2 separate regions of the Homo sapiens genome follow, and region 1 is linked to region 2. Evidence: fine-mapped expression QTL. A gene starts in region 2. The other region holds a variant in brackets. All regions are shown on one strand. Distances are between the middles of the regions.

Region 1 (9,199 bases), 43 kb after region 2:
ATACCAGCTGTCTAAATGAAATTTTAAAATTCTATCAAAATTCTTAATGTAATAAGTATGTCCCCCAAATGTGTGGATGTTTGAATTTGTCCATTGTCTCATCTGTAAAATGGCTCTTAGTTCTAACAGTCTTTTGATTTGACTTCCTGGTCCCCGAGTTCCTCAAATCCAGTGGGCCTTCCTGCCCAACACGTTCTGCACCTGTGGGTTCGTCTAACCACAGATGAAAAACATCCAGGAAAAAAAATTCCACAAGGCTCCAAAAAGCAAAATTTGGCTTCCCTGCTCACCAAGTCCTACACTGAATCCACACAAGTGAAGCGATGTGTAGCCATCGCAGTGGGTGTCATAAGTAACCTAGAGATGAACTGAAGTATGCAGGAGGATTGCATAGGTTATGGGCAAATACTACACCACAGGGACCTGAGCGTTGTGGAGTTTGGTATCTGCAGGGGATCCTGGAACTAATCCCTGATGGGTATTGGGGGCAACTGTATATATTGGGGGACAACTGTATACACACCATCTTTACCTGAAGGGCAGGCCCTACTAAGATCAGAGACCCTGAGGGCCCCCAGGGCTGCTAAGCAATGCCTGAGGCATAAACATTGATCTGGCAGCCAGGGTGATAGTCAAGCTATCTAACTGCACCCATGAGATAGAGTCCCAACCAGCTGGTGGGGTAGCTCAGGTGCTGAGACCCCAGACACCCTGGCATGGCCCTCCACTCTTGGCCCTCCATTCTGGCCACATCCCGGCCTCATCAGTCATCTCTACCGATCACTCAGACTCTGGCCTGGAGGTGCCCCATGGAGCCAGTCCCTGCACGCCTGCTTTCCTAGCCGCTGTTCTCCCTACGGGCACCGAGTCACCCTCTTCCTGGTCTCCAGTGCTCAGGCTTCTCTCCCGAGCCCCAGCCAGCCGCTGCCAGTGGGGTGCCGAGCCCTGCTGACCACATGCTGCCCTTGACTGTCTTCCCTTCTGGGCCTGGAGCTCCCTTGGAGGGCAAGGCTGTGTTTCATTGTCTCTGTGTCTATGTTAGTGTCCTGGGGCTGCTGTGACAAAGGAGGATGCTTGGTGCCTGGAAACAAGTGAAGTTGATTCTTCACAGTGCTGGAACCCAGAGGGCTGAAATGAGCGTCCCTGGGATGAAAGCAGGGTGTCAGCAGGGCCACATCTAAACCCTGCAGGGAACGGTCGGTTCCTGGCCTCTTCCAGCCCTAGTGGCTGCTGGCATTCCTGCGCTCGTGGCCACATCCATCTCTGCCTTCACCTTCACGGCCTCCTCTTCCGAGTATATCACATCTCCCTGGCCTCTCTCTTGTAAGGACATTTGTGGAGATATATATATATATATATATATTTTTTTTTTTTTTTTTTTTTTTTGAGGCAGAGTTTTGCTCTGTCACCCAGGCTGGAGTGCAGTGGTGCAACCTCAGCTCACTGCAGCCTCCGCCTTCCGGGTTCAAGCAGTTCTCTGCCTCAGCCTCCCGAGTAGCTGGGATTACAGGCGCCCACCACCACGCCCGGCTAATTTTTTGTATTTTTAGTAGAGACGGGGTTTCACCATCTTAGCCAGGCTGATCTTGAACTCCTGACCTTGTGATCCACCCGCCTCGGCCTCCCAAAGTGCTGGAATTACAGGCGTGAGCCACCGCGCCTGGCCACTTGCGGTTGTATTTAGGACCCCCCGGATAATCTAGGATAATCTCCCCAGTCAAAGTCTTTACCTCGTCACATCCACAAAGACCCCTTTCCAAGTAAGGTCACATTGACAGGTTCCAGGGATTAGGACCTGCTGTCTTGGGGCCGTCATTCTGCCTACCACAGTATCTCTCCCCAGTGTAAGGAAAATAGCGAACATGTGCCATTCCCTCTGCGGCTGCCTCTGTCCTCAGTCTGCGCTACATCCCGTGAGGCAGGCATTGTCCCCATCCCAGGTGAGGAAATGTGGAATGCAAAAGCTGAAAGGTTTGAAAAAGACTAAAAGGAGATGATAAAGAAATGAGGAGGGAAGGAGAGGAGGGAGGAAGGCAAGAGTGGAAGCTGAGGAAACAGAGGGTTTAGGGTGCAGGCGAGTGCCCCTGGATTGCTCCTGCTGTTGATGGCTGCTGTGAAACCTCAGTTCTTGTCTTCTTAGTTTAACAGAATTGAAACAGGAGACACACAGCAAAGGAGATGCAGCATAGAGCAATGTATTGCACAGGAGGAAGAATACCCTGAAAGTTAGGTGCAGAATAGGCAGGACGCCCCAAGAGGGGAGTCAGGGTAGGCTGCCTGTGAGGATGAGAGAGCAAAGACCGGCTGGAGGGAGGATCCCTTTTTAGGAGTCTTACCTGATTATTCATGAGCAGGTGGGCAAGGGGGTTGCTGGGAAGCATGTTCTGGGTGCTCATGCACAGTGGCTGTGCATCCCTGTTCATACGTCACATGTCTCACTGGCATCTTAAATCTCCATCCAGGGGTGTGTTTTTTACTATTGTAATGAGCAAAGGGTCACTGTGAGGACCGGTAAAAATCAAAGTGCACGTGCTCTCTACAGGGGAAAGTCCCTACTGAAGATAGCTTTGCTTGAATGAGCTTGCCTGCAGTGCGAATGCTGGGGCTTATTGTGTTGACGGCGCAGTCGCCATGGTTGCTGCGTCCTGAGGACATGGTTACTTCCCTGACTATCTGTCGTGCCTCACTGGTACCCCGTGCTTTCTGAGAATCACTCAGACTGAAGTCATTCTTTAAGAAGGATGAGTTGAGGGCTGGGCGCAGTGGCTCACGCCTGTAATTCCAGCACTTTGGGAGGCCAAGGCAGGCAGATCACTTGAGGTCAGGAGTTCGAGACCAGCCTGACTAACATGGCGAAACCCCATCTCTACTAAAAATACAAAGAATTAGCCAGGTATAGTGGTATGCGCCTGTAATCTCAGCTACTCAGGAGGCTGAGGCAGGAGAATCACTTGAACCCGGGAGGCAGAGGTTGCAGTGAGCCCAGATCGCGCCACTGTACTCCAGCCTTGTGACAGAGTGAGACTCTGTCTCAAAAAAACAAAACAAAACAAAACTAATGCTAATTGACTCCAGCTTGTCTCAAACACTCCCTACATCCTGCTTTCTTCCCTTTTCAAACATTGTTCCCAGAAGAAAAGCAGGAGCTGGCATCCCCAGTACGCTCACATCTCCCCTGTCCCTCATCTGCAGGACATGAAAGCTATGTGACCTTCTGCCAGCTGGAGGATGAGGCTGCCTTCACATGCAGCGCCGACTGCACCATCAGGAGGTGGGACGTGCTGACCGGGCAGTGTCTGCAGGTGTACCGAGGACACACGTCCATCGTGAACAGGTCAGCCTGGCTGGGGGCTTGGGCTGAGTCTCACCATACATAGGCTTCTGGTGGGGCTGAGGGGTCAGAGATATGGGCCCCTGCACGTGAGGGCCCTTGGCTCTCTGGGGAAGCAAAAACGTGGACAGCTGGGAGGTGGTCAGTAGCACCCAGCGACGTGGACCCAGGACAGGCAGCGAGCTCAGTGCCTGCGGCTGCATGTGGGGCAGGGAGGCACTGCCCATCCACTGAACAGAGCCTGATGCTTCCCCCTTGGGGGCACAGTGGCTCCCCGCTGGGTGCAGGGAAAAGCACCAGAGCCTACAGCTCGTAGGGATGGGGACAAATTCCATAGGAAATGGCTTAATTGAGACCCGATGGTGGACCAAAGGTTTGCAGGAGGAGGAGTGTGGGGGATTGTTCCGAAGACGGAGTTGAGGATATTTTTAAGCCTCTCCTTTCTTTGTAGCTGTGGAAAATATCCCAGCCCCTCCTTCTCAAGAAGGTTGGAATTGTTCCTTTCTCAATGAATTTGGGTCTGAGCTGAGCAATGGAAATTCCTTTGCTGATCAGATCAGTTGGACACTGTTGGAGTCACTTGTGGTGGTCACCTCGGACTCCCGAGGGAGGCCTCCTGGCGCCCCTGGGCCTGGCAGCTGCACTGGAGGAGGGGCGCTGCCTGGAGGGTGACCCAAGTAAAGACAGGGCTGGCGCAGGCTGGCACGAGGGGGTCCTGAAGGTGGGGCTGGGGGCGCAGACCAGACAGGATGAACCCCACCAGAGGAATGCTGTTGGTTGAGCTCTGACAGGAACCCCCAGTCAGTGGACCAGCGCATGGGGGGACAGGAAAGGCAGTGAGACCCATCAGCCCAGCTCGCTGGAGTCGCAGGTGGCTGCAGCCAGGAATAATAATCGATAGTCGATGGACGGGGAGCTGGGTGACACCCTGAGGAGGAGGCTGAAGGGATGCGGGGACTTTTTAGAGTGAATGGGGGGTATATGCAGACACAAGGTAGGGTGGCCGTCTGGCCCCGGCCTTCCTCAGCTGAAGCAGGTGAGGCCCTGAGACCTGCCCAGGCAGCCCACAAGGTGGTAAAGAAGGGGCTAGAGTGAGAACTCAGGGCTCACAGCTCCACTGGCCTCTTCCCAGCACTCTGACTTCCCTGAGAAAGAAGTTTGCCATGAAAGAAGAGAGTAGGGCTGGGGGAGCGCCCTCCTGTGAGTCAGGCAGAGGCTGCAATGGGCTCAGCGGGGAGAAGGCCTGCCTGCAGTGACCAGTGGGCCCTCAGCTGCCAAACCCACAACTGTCAGATGCTTCTCAAAAGCAAAACTGGAACATTAAAGGTAGAAATCATGCTCGGCCAGATTTACTCTCACATGTGCACACACAACTTACACATACACATGTGCGCACACACACAACATACATATACACCATACACACAACTTACACATATACACGTGCATACACAACATACATACACACTCATACACAAACTTACACATACACACGTGCGCACACATACATATACACATACACCATACAAACAACTTACACATATACACGTGCATACACAACATACATACACACTCATACACAAACTTACACATACACACGTGCGCACACATATACACATACACACCTTACACATACACATGTGCACACACATACACTCATACACAACTTACACATGTGCACACACGCACAACATACATATACACCCATACACACAACTTACACATACACATGTGCACACATACACAACATACATATGCACTCATACACAACTTACACATGCACATGCAACTTACACACATACACACAACATACATATGCACCCATACACACAACTTACACACACATATGCACACACAACACACACATGCACACACATAGACACACAACTTACACAAGCAACAAAACATACACATATACACACAAAGTACATGCAGGCACACATTGTGCACACAACACACATGCACATATACACATATGCACACATGTTCACATGTGCTCACAACATATACAAACACACACACTATTTTGGATCGGTCACAGCTCCAAACCCATAGCT[C/T]TGTGTAGATATTTGCATGATTAAGTAACTGTCCTCATAAATCAGGAACTCACTTCCTCCCGAGTTTTCAGAGCCAGGTCAGGCCTGTGAGCTTTGGGGTCACCGATCGTTCAGTGGCCTGGCATCCCTGCCTTCTCACACCAGGCAGGACTCAGCCACCCCCTCCATACCCCAAGGCCTCCCGCTACACCCTTCCTCCCGCTATGCCCTTCCTCCCGCTACACCCTCTTCCTCCCGCTATGCCCTTCCTCCCGCTATGCCCTTCCTCCTGCTACGCCCTCTTCCTCCCGCTACACCCTCTTCCTCCCGCTACACCCTCTTCCTCCCGCTATGCCCTTCCTCCCACTACACCCTCTTCCTCCCGCTATGCTCTTCCTCCCGCTATGCCCTTCCTCCCGCTATGCCCTTCCTCCCGCTACACCCTCTTCCTCCCGCACTTTGCAGCAGCAGCATCAAGGCATCATTTCCTTTAAAAATACACGTAATCCCAGCTACTCGGGAGGCTGAGGCAGGAGAATCGCTTGAACCTGGGAGGCAGAGGTTGCAGTGAGCCGAGATCGTGCCACTGCGCTCCAGCCTGGGCGACAGAGTGAGACTCCGTCTCAAAATAAATAAATAAATACATGTTTTGTGACAATCATCCTATCTGGGTCTCAGGGAAGAAGCCAGTTGGAAAGGGATAGTTGGCATTTGAGTGGAGTCATGTGTCGTTGAGCTGCTTGCGGGAAGTGAGGAATGCTGTTGGGATCCTGTGGAGGCGGGAGGCAGCAGGCTTGTCCCGAGTGGGTCTCCTGTCCATGCCAGGCTGGCCAGCAAGCCCTTCGCGGGAGGACGGGAGGAGCAGCAGGGCCGGCCGTGGTCCTGATTCAGGAGGGTCCCACCCCGGCAGGGATGCACCTTGTTACAGTGCAGCCACGGCCGCACCCCTTGGCGGTCTCCTCTCCTGAGGTGCAGGGCTTCTTACCAAGGGTGTGTGCTCAGACCTTCTGAGGTTCTGTGCAAAGCTCTGCACTAAAGACAAATGTGTGTTTTTCTGGGGAGTTCTTGGCTTCCATCAAAATGAAAATAAGAGTCGTGAATACAATGTGGGGGCCTTGGTCTCCCATGTTGGTCAGTTGCACTGAATGGATGGACTCTCTTGGCTACCCAACCCCCAGTTCCCAGCCATGTGGCTAGAACCCTGTTGAGGCTGTGACCTCAGTCTGCATGGGGATTGCTGTGAGAGCTGGCAGCAGAGGCCCCCACTGGCTGTAGCGTGACCCCTGGCTGTGCCTCCCACAAGCACCCCTGGGTGCACTATGGGAGTTCCCAGTGCTCTCCAGCTTCTCAGGGCCCTCATCTGAAGTGCCCTGCCCAGCCACTTGAGCCGGCCCTGTTCCCAGGGTGACCAGCGTGTCCCACTCTGCCCTGGACTTTCTCAGTCTTAGGCTGAAAACCCTAAATCCCCAGAAGCTTTTCAACTCCGGGCAAGCTGAGAGGGCCGTGCTCCCCTACCTTCCCCCCCACCCGCTTCCCGCTGCTCCCCTACCTCCTCCCCCATCCCCTTCCCGCTGCTCCTGCAGAGCTGCTGTGGGGATGCTGGAGGGATCCCAGCGGAGCATCTAAGCTTGGTCCCTGCTACAGGTACATGCCCAGGGGCAGGCAAGGAAGGGTGGGCATGAGGGGAGTCAGGGTAGCTTCCTGGAGGTGGGGGCGATTTGAGCTGGACCTTGGAAGACGAGTGTGGCAAGCTGGGCAGACACAGGGAGAGGTTATTTTAGCTGCAGTGCCGAGCATGGCATGTCGGGAGGCTGTGTGGATTCTGGAACCCGTGCCTTCTGATCCCTGACCCCTTCCCTCTTGCCCCCAGGATCCTGGTTGCCAACAACCAGCTCTTCAGCAGCTCCTATGACCGGACAGCTCGGGTCTGGAGTGTGGACAAGGGGCAGATGTCCCGGGAGTTCCGGGGCCACCGCAACTGCGTGCTGACCCTAGCCTACTCTGCCCCGTGGGACCTCCCCAGCACTCCCTGCGCGGAGGAGGCCGCGGCCGGGGGGCTTCTGGTGACCGGCAGCACAGATGGCACAGCCAAGGTGTGGCAGGTGGCCAGCGGCTGCTGCCACCAGACGCTGCGGGGCCACACGGGTGCAGTGCTGTGCCTAGTGCTAGACACGCCCGGCCACACGGCCTTCACAGGCAGCACCGACGCCACCATCCGTGCCTGGGACATCCTGAGTGGGGAGCAGCTGCGGGTGTTCCGGGAGCACCGGGGCTCCGTCATCTGTCTGGAGGTGAGACTGTCCTGGTCCCCGCCCAGCAGCCAGGGGAGCCCAGGTCACCCCCTGCACTGCCGCCCTGCCCTGGGTATCTGTGATTCGGCTGCATAACAAAGCGCTGCAGATGGGGGCCTGGCAAGCGCCACGGAGGCCTTGCGGTCCTGGGGCTGGGAATCCAAGATAAGGGGTCCGCAGTACTGGTTTCCGTGAGGCCTCTCCTTAACCTGCAGATGCTGCCTTCTCCCTGTCCTCGTGTGTGTGTGTGTGTGTGTGTGTGTGTGTGTGTGTGTGTGTGTCCTAATCTCTTCTTAGAAGGACACCAGTCATACTGGATTAGGGCCCCCCTATGAACTCATTTTAACTCAACTGCCTCTTTTAAAGACCCTCTTTCAAAAAGGCCACATTCATAGGTACAGGGGTGGGGTAGGGCTGCGACACGTGAATCTGGGGTGGGCATGATGCAGCCCATAACACTCAGCTTCTGAATCTGCATGCTGGGCCAGAGCTGGGGCGGAGCCTGCCTGCAGGGCGCCTGGAGCGGGTGTTGACTGTTTTCCTGGTTTGTCTTTGTGCTGTCAGGGTGAACGCCGGCAGCCTCCTGGGCTCCGTCCTCATGGGTTGGGGACTGGGAAGTGGCCCATCATGCTATAAGCTGACAACCAGGATAGAGGAAGCACATAGCGCTGTAATGGTGTGGCCGTGTGGGACGTGGGGTTGCTGCCCCGTCTCCGTTGCCTCCCCTGGACAAGCCACCCAGCCTCTGTGGGCCTCAGTTTCCTCACATGTACAGGGAGGATTACGCCCCTTCTTAATTCCTAAATCCAAAAAGTTCCAAAAATTGAGAAGTTTTTTCTTAAGCTTGGCACGAAAACGCCTGGTGGCAGAGTCTGGCCTGAAGAGACATGTGACTGTGTGTGCTTCGAACATCCCGGTGCCTGGGGGTTCTCACGCCTTTCCTGCAGATGCAGGAGTGTGTCTGTAAGCCAGAAAATCCTCGAACGCATTGTCCCAAGGTTTTAGATTAGGGATTATGGTATGAAGTTGCCCCGTCCGTGGGCTTGTGGTAGGGATTTGGTGAATCAATGGAAGATGCGTGAACAGTGCTGCCAGGCAGCCCTTAGCCGCCGCGACCGTGACCATCCCTGCTGCTGTTGCTGTGAAGGACCTAACGGTGTGCCTGGCCGGAGGACCTGTTGGGTGTGATCCCCCATGCTGGGGTCTAGATGTTCCTGGCTCAGTCTCGGCCAGCCTCTGCCCTGCTCCAGGGCAGGTCCGACCCCTGCGGCAAGCGGTTGGGGTGCATTGCTACCAGCACCTGATGCTCAGCGAAGCCGCAGAAGATGGGAGGGGCAGGCTCCGGGTGACGGGGCTGGAGTCAGGGCAGCCCTGATCAGGCTTCGCTGTGCTCAACCCCATAGGAGAGCCAGGCCAGGGGCCCCATTTGGGGTTGTAGGGGTAGAGGCGGCCCCGGGGCTCCAAGACCAGGGGAGCAGGGAAGGGCTCACATTCGCGTGGAGGGAGGGTCACCCAGGTCCCTGAGATGCTGGATGGGGCAT
Region 2 (8,999 bases):
CAGCTACAAGGGAGGCTGAAGCAGGAGGATGCCTTAGCCCAGTTGTTTGGGGCTGCATTGAGCTATGATCGTGGCACTGCACTCTGGCCTGGGTGACAGAGTGAAACTCTGTCTCTAAAACAAAGAAACACTTGCACACACACAGGCACACACACATAATCAATAAGGAAAGACAGAAAAAAATGAGCAAAGCATATGAACAAGCAATTTACAAAAGATCCAATTCAAATGAACGCTATACATTTGAACTGATGTTGAGCAACTGGCCTTGGAACTACCAAGGGTAGATCTCATCTGTATGTCAGTGGGGCAATTTGGAAGACCTCTGTGGCATCTAGTGGCTTGAAGGTGAACTCATGCTTCAACCCAGCAATTTCACCCAGAGGCATGGGCCTCAAAGGAGGCAGTATTGGTCCCAGGGTGTGGTTGGAATTTTGTAGGGTGTTTCTGTTTGTCAGAATGCTGGAGGATGGGTGGGCAGGCCCCAGGATGCTGGATATCCCACCACATCCAAGGAGACACTGTCCCACAATTTCCCCTAGAAACGCATAGTATTTTTTGTGTGGCTTTAATATATACTGAAGATTTCCTGGTATGCAATTTATTAGATATATAAATGGAAGATTTTACTTAGTTTTCTGAGGAATTCTACTGAGCTTTGTTCATTCACCATTTCAGAAACTCTTGTCACTAAAACAAAAAACCAAATTGCAGAAGGCTACATATAATGTAGCCACACTAAAAATTTTCTATTATTTACAGATACATACAAAGAAAGTAAAAAGATGAAAACACACAAAGACATAACACAAAAATCAGGACAGTATCTTATCCTTATGGGGAAGGAAGCCTTCAATTCTATGTATAATGATTTCTTATTTTAAGGAAAAACATTGATCCGACATAAACCTGGCAAAATGCTAAGATTTGACAAACTTTGTATGGTGGTGTTATTGTTCCTTATATTATTTCCTATTCTTCTCTGTGCTCTAAATTACCCAAAAACGGGAGAGACAAGAGGCAGAGAAGGGAGGCAGGCAAACGGGTGATGGCTCAGGGTGATTTATTATTAAAACCATTAGCCTCCACGCTGTAAAACTCTCCAATGCTGAGCAGCTACTGGTAGTTCTAAGGCTACATGTTATTGAGATTTTATTTTTTAAGCCATGATAGCATTCTTAGCCTTGCTTCTTCTGTGCTGTCACGATATTTATTCTCAGTCCATTTCCTTAGAATTTTGTCCCCAACTAGCAGCTGTATAGTGACTCAAGATCTCACCTACCTCAAGGTACATTTTAACAGTGCTCTACCAAAGATGACTCAAAAAAATGACTCTGATGTTGAGGTTTGGTGATACTGGCATTTGCATATTATGTAGCTATTTTGGGGAGGGGTTCTACCTGGCCACAAATAGATAATATGAATCTTAGCAGACTCCTCCTCTGGTAACTGAATTATAATAAAATCCCAGGTGGGAATTGAGATATTGCATTAGAAATAGGGAATGGAGGTGAAATTTGCAGGTATCTTATTCATCTACCCATTTTTAATAATTCTTTGCGTGGGGCTTTCAGCTAGGCATTTTTTCATATATATTTCTCAGAAAACACCCCAAATCACTGCTTCTGTTTTGGATTCTGTTGTCATCACCTTTTTGGGTTGTCTGTGTGCTCTGGCCCTGCTGTGATGAGGGCAAATACAAATTAAAAAGAAGAAGTTCAGCTGGGCACAGTGGCTCACACCTGTAATCCCAGCACTTTGGGAGGCCAAGGCAGGCGGATCACTTGAGGTCAGGCATTCAAGACCAGCCTGGCCAACGTGGTGAAGCCCCATCTCTACTAAAAATACAAAAATTGGCCAGGCGCGGTGGCTCACGCCTGTAATCCTAGCACTTTGGGAGGCCAAGGCAGGCGGATTGCCTGAGCTCAGGAGTTTGATATCAGCCTGGGCAACATGGTGAAACCCCATCTCTACTAAAATACAAAAAACTAGCCAGGCTTGGCGGCGTGTGCCTGTAGTCCCAGCTACTCGGGAGGCTGAAGCAGGAGAATCGCTTGAACCCAGGAGGTGGATGTTGCAGTGAGTTGAGATCACGCCACTGCACTCCAGCCTGGGCAACAGAACAAGACTCCATCTCCAAAAAAAAAAAAAAAAAAAAAAAAAAATTAGCTGGGCGTGGTGGCACACACCTGTAGTCCCAGCTACTGGGGAGGCTGAGGCAGGAGAATTGCTTGAACCTAGGAGGCAGAGATTGCAGTGAGCTGAGATCGCATCACTGCACTCCTGCCTGGGGGACAGAGCAAGACTCCATCTCAAAAAAAAAAAAAAAAAAAAGCTCTTAAAACAACAATGAGACACCACTGCACACTTATTTGAATGGCTAAAATCCAAAACTTGATAGCACCAAATGGTCAGAATGAAAAATCATATAGCCACTTTGAAAGAGAGTTTGACAGTTTCTTTTTATTTGATTTGATTTTGAATTTTTTAGAGACAGGGTCTTGCTATGTTGTCCAAGCTGGTCTTGAACTCCCGGCCTCAAGTAATCCTCCTGCCTTAGCCTCCTGAGTAGCTGGGATTACAGGTACAAGCCTCTGCACCTGGCTTTTATTTTTTTTTCAGTTTGTTGCACAACTAAACATACCTGTAACATATGATCCAGCAATCCCACTCCTTAGTGTATAGTGAAAGGAGCACACAAAAATCTACACGTGGTTGTTTATAGAAGCTTTCCTCATAATTGCCAAAACTTGGACACAACCAAAATGTCCTTCCATTGATGAATAGATAACTAAACTGTGGTACTTCCAGACAAGGGAACATGATTCAGCAGTAAAAAGAAATGAGAGACTAGGCCAGGAAAAGATATGAGGGAATCTTAAATGCATATTACTAAGTGGAAGAAACCAATCTGAGAAAGCTACTTGCTGTCTTAGTCCGTTTTGTGCCGCTATAACAGAATACCACAGACTGGGTAATTTACAATGAACACAAATGTACTGGCTCACAGTTCTGGAGGCTGAGAAGTCTAACATCACGGTGCTGGCATCTTTCAAGGGCCTTCTTGCTGTATCATCCCATGGGAGAAGGGCAAAGAGAGGGTGAGAGAGAGCAAGCGGTTGACCTTGTAGCCCTTTATGGTCAGCGTTAATCCATGAATGAGGGTGAAGCCCTCATGACCTAAACCCTTCCCATGAGACCGCATCTTTCAACATTGTTGCATTGGGGATTAAGTTTCCAACACATGTGTTTTGGGGGACACGTTCAAACCGTAGTAGCTACATACTGTAAGATTCCAAATACATGACATCCTGAAAAAGGCAAAACCGTGAAGATAGTAAAAAGATCAGTGGTTGCCAGGAGTTAAGGGGGAGAGAGGGATAAACAGATGGAGCCCAGGGGACTTTTTTTTTTATCTTTTTTTTTTTTTTTTTGAGACGGAGTTTAACTCTGTCGTCCAGGCTGGAGTGCAGTGGCGCAATCTTGGCTCACTACAACCTCCACCTTCCAGGTTCAAGCAATTCTCACTGCCTCAGCCTCCTGAGTAGCTAGGATTACAGGCGCCTGCCACCACGCCTGGCTAGTTTTTGTATTTTTAGTAGAGACAGGGTTTCGCCCTGTTGGCCAGGCTGGTCTCAAACTCCTGACCTTAGGTGATCCACCCGCCCCGGCCTCCCAAAGTGCTGGGATTACAGGTGTGAGCCGCCGTGCCCAGCCCACACAGGGGACTTTTAAGGTGGTGAGAATACTCTACCTGGTGCTCTAATGGTGGAACCATGGCATTACACTGTAGAGGCAGCAAAGTTCTACCTCCATCCTCTTAGGGTCCTGGCTGGGCCTGAGAAATAAATTGACCTAAGACAGATTAACAAGAGAAAAGCATACAAACTTATTTAATACAAGTTTTATGTGGCATGGGAGCCCTTATAAGGAGATGAAGACCCAAAGAAAAAGTTAAGAGTCAAACACTTACATACTCAACTGGACAAAGAGTAGCAAGCTGTGAAAAATCAACCACATTATGTGGGGAGGCTTTAAAAATGTGTTATTTTAACAAAGTCTACGCCGCATTCTCTCAACTTCTCATCCTGTATCCCGATGTATAACATAGGTTCATCGGCTGTGACAAATGTACCACTCTAATGGGGGCGCTGATTGTGGAGGAGGCTCTGTGTGTGTGTGTGTGTGTGTGTGTGTGTGTGTGTGTGTGTGTGTAGGGGCAGGGGGTATACAGGAAATTGCTGTACCTTTTGCTGAATTCAACTTGAACCTAAAGCTGCTCTAAAAAATAAAACCTTTTTTTAAGGCTTATTTTTCCCTGTTGAAAATAAGGGAAGAGGCTTCCCTTTCCTCCCTTTTCTTGCAGAATTTCCTTCTCTGTCATTTTCAAATGTGTGTAAATCTTTTTAATGGCTAAACAAGCCTCTTGCCAGTCTAACAACTCAGTCATGTTTCCTCTGGGAGCCTCTTTGAGTCTTGACATCAAGGAGTAAGTGCCCCCACCCTCCCCGTTTCCTAAGAAGCCTGACTTCAGCTGTCACCTGACTCCAAATTGCAAAACCCACCTCCAGTCATAGAGATACAAGAAAATCAGCAATTTTATCCTGAAAACATGAATGCAGTGGGTTGTGTCTGCTTGGCTACAGAAGAGTGAGATCTCTCTCCATCTTTGCGATCTCTTAGGGGAGAGATCGTGATGCAGATCGCATTCCAGTTTAAAGTTTATTCAATAATAAAATTGTTTTTTTTTCCTTCTACCTTCGTGGAGAAGTTTTCTGGGTTGGCTGGAGATTTTGTTTTTAATTTTATGTCCCCACCAGGGCCCAGGTCCAGAGAGAAACATTGGAATGTGTGGCTTGGCAAGTAAGGGCGCCAGTGGAGGCAGCTGGGCGGCGTCCCTAGGGAGGGGCGTCCCTAGGGAGGACCGTCCCTGGGTTCAAGGGTGACATGCAGGTTCTGGTTTGTACCCTGTCTACTTTTGAAAACCTCCCACAGCAGAGGCAAGGTCACCCCTCTGCCCCAAGAATCACATAACCTCCTCTTCCTGGGCCTCAGTGTCTCATCTGTGAAATGGTCATAAAAATATACTGTTTGAAGGAAGAGCAGCCCAAACTCCTCCCCAAAGCTCCTCCCTCCCCTCCAGCAGAAGCCCCTGTGGAGCACCTGCCCCTCTCTCCTTTGATCTCAGAGCCTGTCCCCCACCACCCCAGCCATCTGAGTCATGAGTCCTGTGTTCCCAGCTCATCTCCCCAGCCGTGTGGGGGCTGCACATCCTGTGGGCTCCATGTTCGCTCTGCTCACTCCACAATCTCTGAGCCTCTGCTGTCTGCCAAGTGCTCGTTCTGGGCCCTGGGGAACTCTCCCTCCGCGGTGGGGCTGCTTTGTGCTGTAAACTGATCCTGGGCGTCCAGGGTGGCTTAGTTGGTGCAGCAGAGAGGCAAGGGGCAGAGCACTGTACCCCCAGCTCAGGGCAGCGCGGGTCACCTGGTCACCCTAGGCAGGATCTTCAAGGAGAGAGGGACCCAGGGAGGGAGAGTGCCAGGGAGGGAGGCAGGCAGGAAGAGAGCGGGAGGAGGGAGGCCTGACCTGGCCTGGCGTTTTGTGGGGTGTGGGGGGGTGCATCAGGAGCTGGGTGAGTTGGAGCCGGAGGTCTAAGGTGGGGACCTGGGAGCTCAGACCAGAGCAGCCAGGGGAGGGGCGGTCAAGGGCTGTCTGTCTGTCCGGGGAAGCTTGGGTTGCATCCTCGTGGAGACAAACAAGTTGGCACCAAGGCGAGACTACCTGCAGCCAGGTGAGAAAGGGGAGTGGGCTGGGGAGCTCGGAACAGGCCTTGGGAGGGAGGGAGATGGGCGTGAGGGCTGAGGGGCAGCGCAGGGGAAGAAAGGTTGGAGGGCTAGAGAGACACCTCCCCTCCTCCCCCCACCACTCCAGGGCAGGGCAGGGGCAGCCGCGGGCTGGGCGGGAGGGCTCAGGGAGGAAGGAGGCTCGGGAGCTAAACGCGGAGAGCACAGGGAGACCCCGGGCAGGGCGGGCTGCACTCGCGGTGGCACAGGGTGGCCGCGGCGGGTCCCAACCGCCTGGTGGCCCCTCGGGCTTAGCACGCCCGACAGCACTAACGCTCCGGGGCCGGCCCAGCAAATCTTTTGTCCGGGGCGGCGCTGAGCCAGCAGGGCGCTGCCCGGTGTAAACGGGGACCCGCGGAAGGGGCGGGGCGCACCATGGCGCAGCGCTCGGGGAAGGTGAGTGCGTCCCTCAACCCCAAGGAAACCGAGTGGGGCTCCGCCTTCGCCCCCTGTGCTAGGGGATGCAGGAGGGTGCACACTGTTGATGGTGACAAATCCAAGGGAAGCTGGTTTAATTTCTTAATAAAATGGGGTGGCCTCGCTACTGGCCTGGGGCCTCTCTGGTGTGGATGGATAGGAAGGTCTCCATCTCCACTCCTTCCTTCTGGGATTCCAACCCCTCGCCCTGCAGTCAGGAGCAGGGAGGGTGTTCAGACTCCCTGGGGCTTCCTTGGGGTGGGGGAGGCTTGGCTTGTCCCACAGCCCTCCGCCCCACTGCTGCGGCTTCTTTGCCCAAGGCTGGCCTCTATGGCTTTTCCTTCCCAGGGTCTCTTCAGGGACACTTAGGGCTGGTTCTCTGAAAAATGTTGAGATTTGAGGGAGCCCCGAATCCCTTTGGTGCCCAGACCTCCCTGAAGGTTTCAGGGGCCCTCTACCAGCCGTGCCTGGTGCAGGAAGGACGGGAGACCTGGCTCTCCCTCGCCCTCTCCAGTGCCCCTAGCCTAGCCACTCCCATGAAGCCTTTGGTCTCCAAGGCCACATTCCAGAGTGTCTGGGGGTGACTGTGTTGCTGTATCAGTCTGCATGGGCCAGGTGATGCTTCAGTAACAAAGGGCCCCAGTAACTCTGGGGTGCAGAACGCCAAGGTGTCTGCCTCCTTTCCGGTGAACGCATGTGGCCACGCCTGACTCCAAGGGGCCTGGAAGGGCAATTCTCGTGTTCTTTTGAGCGAACTGGAGACACTGGTGAGGCACAAGCGACCATAGTGATGGGGAACATCACTGCACTCTGGCAGGACCCTTCTAGGGCCACAGTTCTTGAAACCCAAAGAGTTACTAAATGGTTGAGATTTTAGGTTCCACAGCAGGAAATGAGTCTGGCGGGTTGTTATTGCTTCACTTTGTTTTGTTTCGGGACAAGGACAACCTGTGAGTGCCACGTAGCTATAAGACACGATGTCTGAACTCCCAGCAGGGTGATGGAGCTCCAGATCTGATACATGCCTGCTACCCAAAGGAGTGACCTACAAAACACAGAGAGACAGGGTGGCACTTATAAGCCCTCTTTTGCGAACATTAATCCCGAGCCAGGCCCTGACGCGGCTTCGGCCCATTCAGCCTCTCCAGTGAAGGAGGCCCAATCCCAGGAACCCGAATTTCTGCAAAATATATGCTGGGTTACCATGAGAGGGTTGTGGGTGAAATTTCTTCTTTTGAAAACACCTCCTTTAATGTTATTATCGGCTTTATGTTTTAATAATTAAAAAATGAGTTAAAAATGCAGTGGAAGTTGAAAACAGCCCATTTTGAAATGGGCACCTAGACAAAGGGGAAACCCCTGTCCCCAAATCGCTGCTGAAATTTGTCTGCCCCACTGTGAGCTCCTAAGGGTGGGGAGGAACAGTAGCTGTGTATGGCATCAGCCTGCCAGCTGTTCGTTCTTTTGCCCAATTGGCAAATAGTGTTGGGCACCTACTGTGTGCAGCAGGTCTGGGCTTTTGGGGGCCTGGGAGTAGGGGTTCCATCCAGGGTGTTGGGACCCAGACGCCAGCCTCCAACGCTGACGGAGAGAAGCCCCTGACCCTGAGCTCTGTAACCTGCCCTTTCTAGATCACTCTCTATGAAGGCAAGCACTTCACAGGGCAGAAGCTGGAGGTCTTCGGGGACTGTGACAACTTCCAGGACCGGGGCTTTATGAACCGAGTGAACTCCATCCACGTGGAGAGCGGAGCCTGGGTCTGCTTCAATCACCCCGACTTCCGGGGCCAGCAGTTCATCTTGGAGCACGGCGACTACCCCGACTTCTTCCGCTGGAACAGCCACAGTGACCACATGGGCTCCTGTCGGCCTGTAGGAATGGTGAGTGGGCCCGTCCACCGAAGGCTGAGTCTTCCTGCTGGAGGGACCGAGGGTCAGCCCTGGCAGACAGTGGCAAGGAATCGGGGAGCGTGGTCCTCCCGGCTTTAAAGTCTGTAAGACTGAAGGAGCTATACCCAGAGCCACCTGCTGGCATGAGGTGAGTAGGTGGGGGGCCAAGTTGCTATGAACTGAGTGGGAGTGGCCCTGAGTTTTCATACAGGTATCAATAAACCACTTTAAGTTTCGGAGCCAAAAATCTAGCTGCATTTTCCATTTAAAATGCTGTTGAAATCATCCAAATTTAGATTTCCAGCCAGATAGGGGACACTCCGCCAATGGGAGGCTGATTTGGGCCTAGTGTGGCCACTAGTACAGGTGGTCTTGTGGCACATTCTGGAGCCTTCCATGTCTTGGAATGGCTGATGGAGGAAGCTGAAGAATCACCCGCCTGTCAGGGGAAAATTGGGGGGCAGGTCCCTTGGAATTACACAGGTAGCTGCCGCCCAAGAGGTGTGTGCAGGGAGGGCAGACGAGGGGCATGGCTCCCCGGTGGCGAAAGACTGTTTCGGTCCAGCTGCTCCTAGGGTGGGATTTAAGCAAGGCCGTTCCCCCAGGTCATGGGTACTCACTGACCTGCTGTGAGCTCTGGAGCTTCAGGTGGGGAGTGGCGGACTCCTGAGCCTGGGGGCGTGCATCTCTCATCACAGAGCGTCTCGCTTATGTCTGCTGAGGACCCTCCCCCGACGCCTGGGCTGGGTGGTTCTGGTGAACATCTGAGGAACCCCAGTAAAGGGGCCTTTGTGTGGTGCCCCCTCTCTTTTCTGTATCAGTTGCAAAACCAGCTGGGCTTTGGCATCTC

Evidence for each region. PIP is the estimated chance that this variant, and not a neighbour inherited with it, causes the effect.
Region 1: its variant is fine-mapped to the expression of CRYGN in whole blood (TOPMed, PIP above 0.99).

The regions. Positions count from the first base shown.
Region 1 is chr7:151,394,235-151,403,433 of GRCh38, reverse strand. WDR86 (WD repeat domain 86) reads left to right here. Exons shown (of 6, transcript NM_198285.3): 2 at 3,193-3,334; 3 at 7,238-7,658. Among named protein-coding and RNA genes, the nearest start is that of WDR86-AS1, 10 kb to the left of the region's middle. The variant C/T (reference allele first, on the strand shown) is at 5,389.
Region 2 is chr7:151,437,137-151,446,135 of GRCh38, reverse strand. CRYGN (crystallin gamma N) reads left to right here and starts at 5,995. Exons shown (of 4, transcript NM_144727.3): 1 at 5,995-6,239; 2 at 7,892-8,140. The coding sequence starts at 6,219. RefSeq lists enhancers at 4,967-5,503, 6,215-6,715, 6,716-7,216, 7,578-8,427.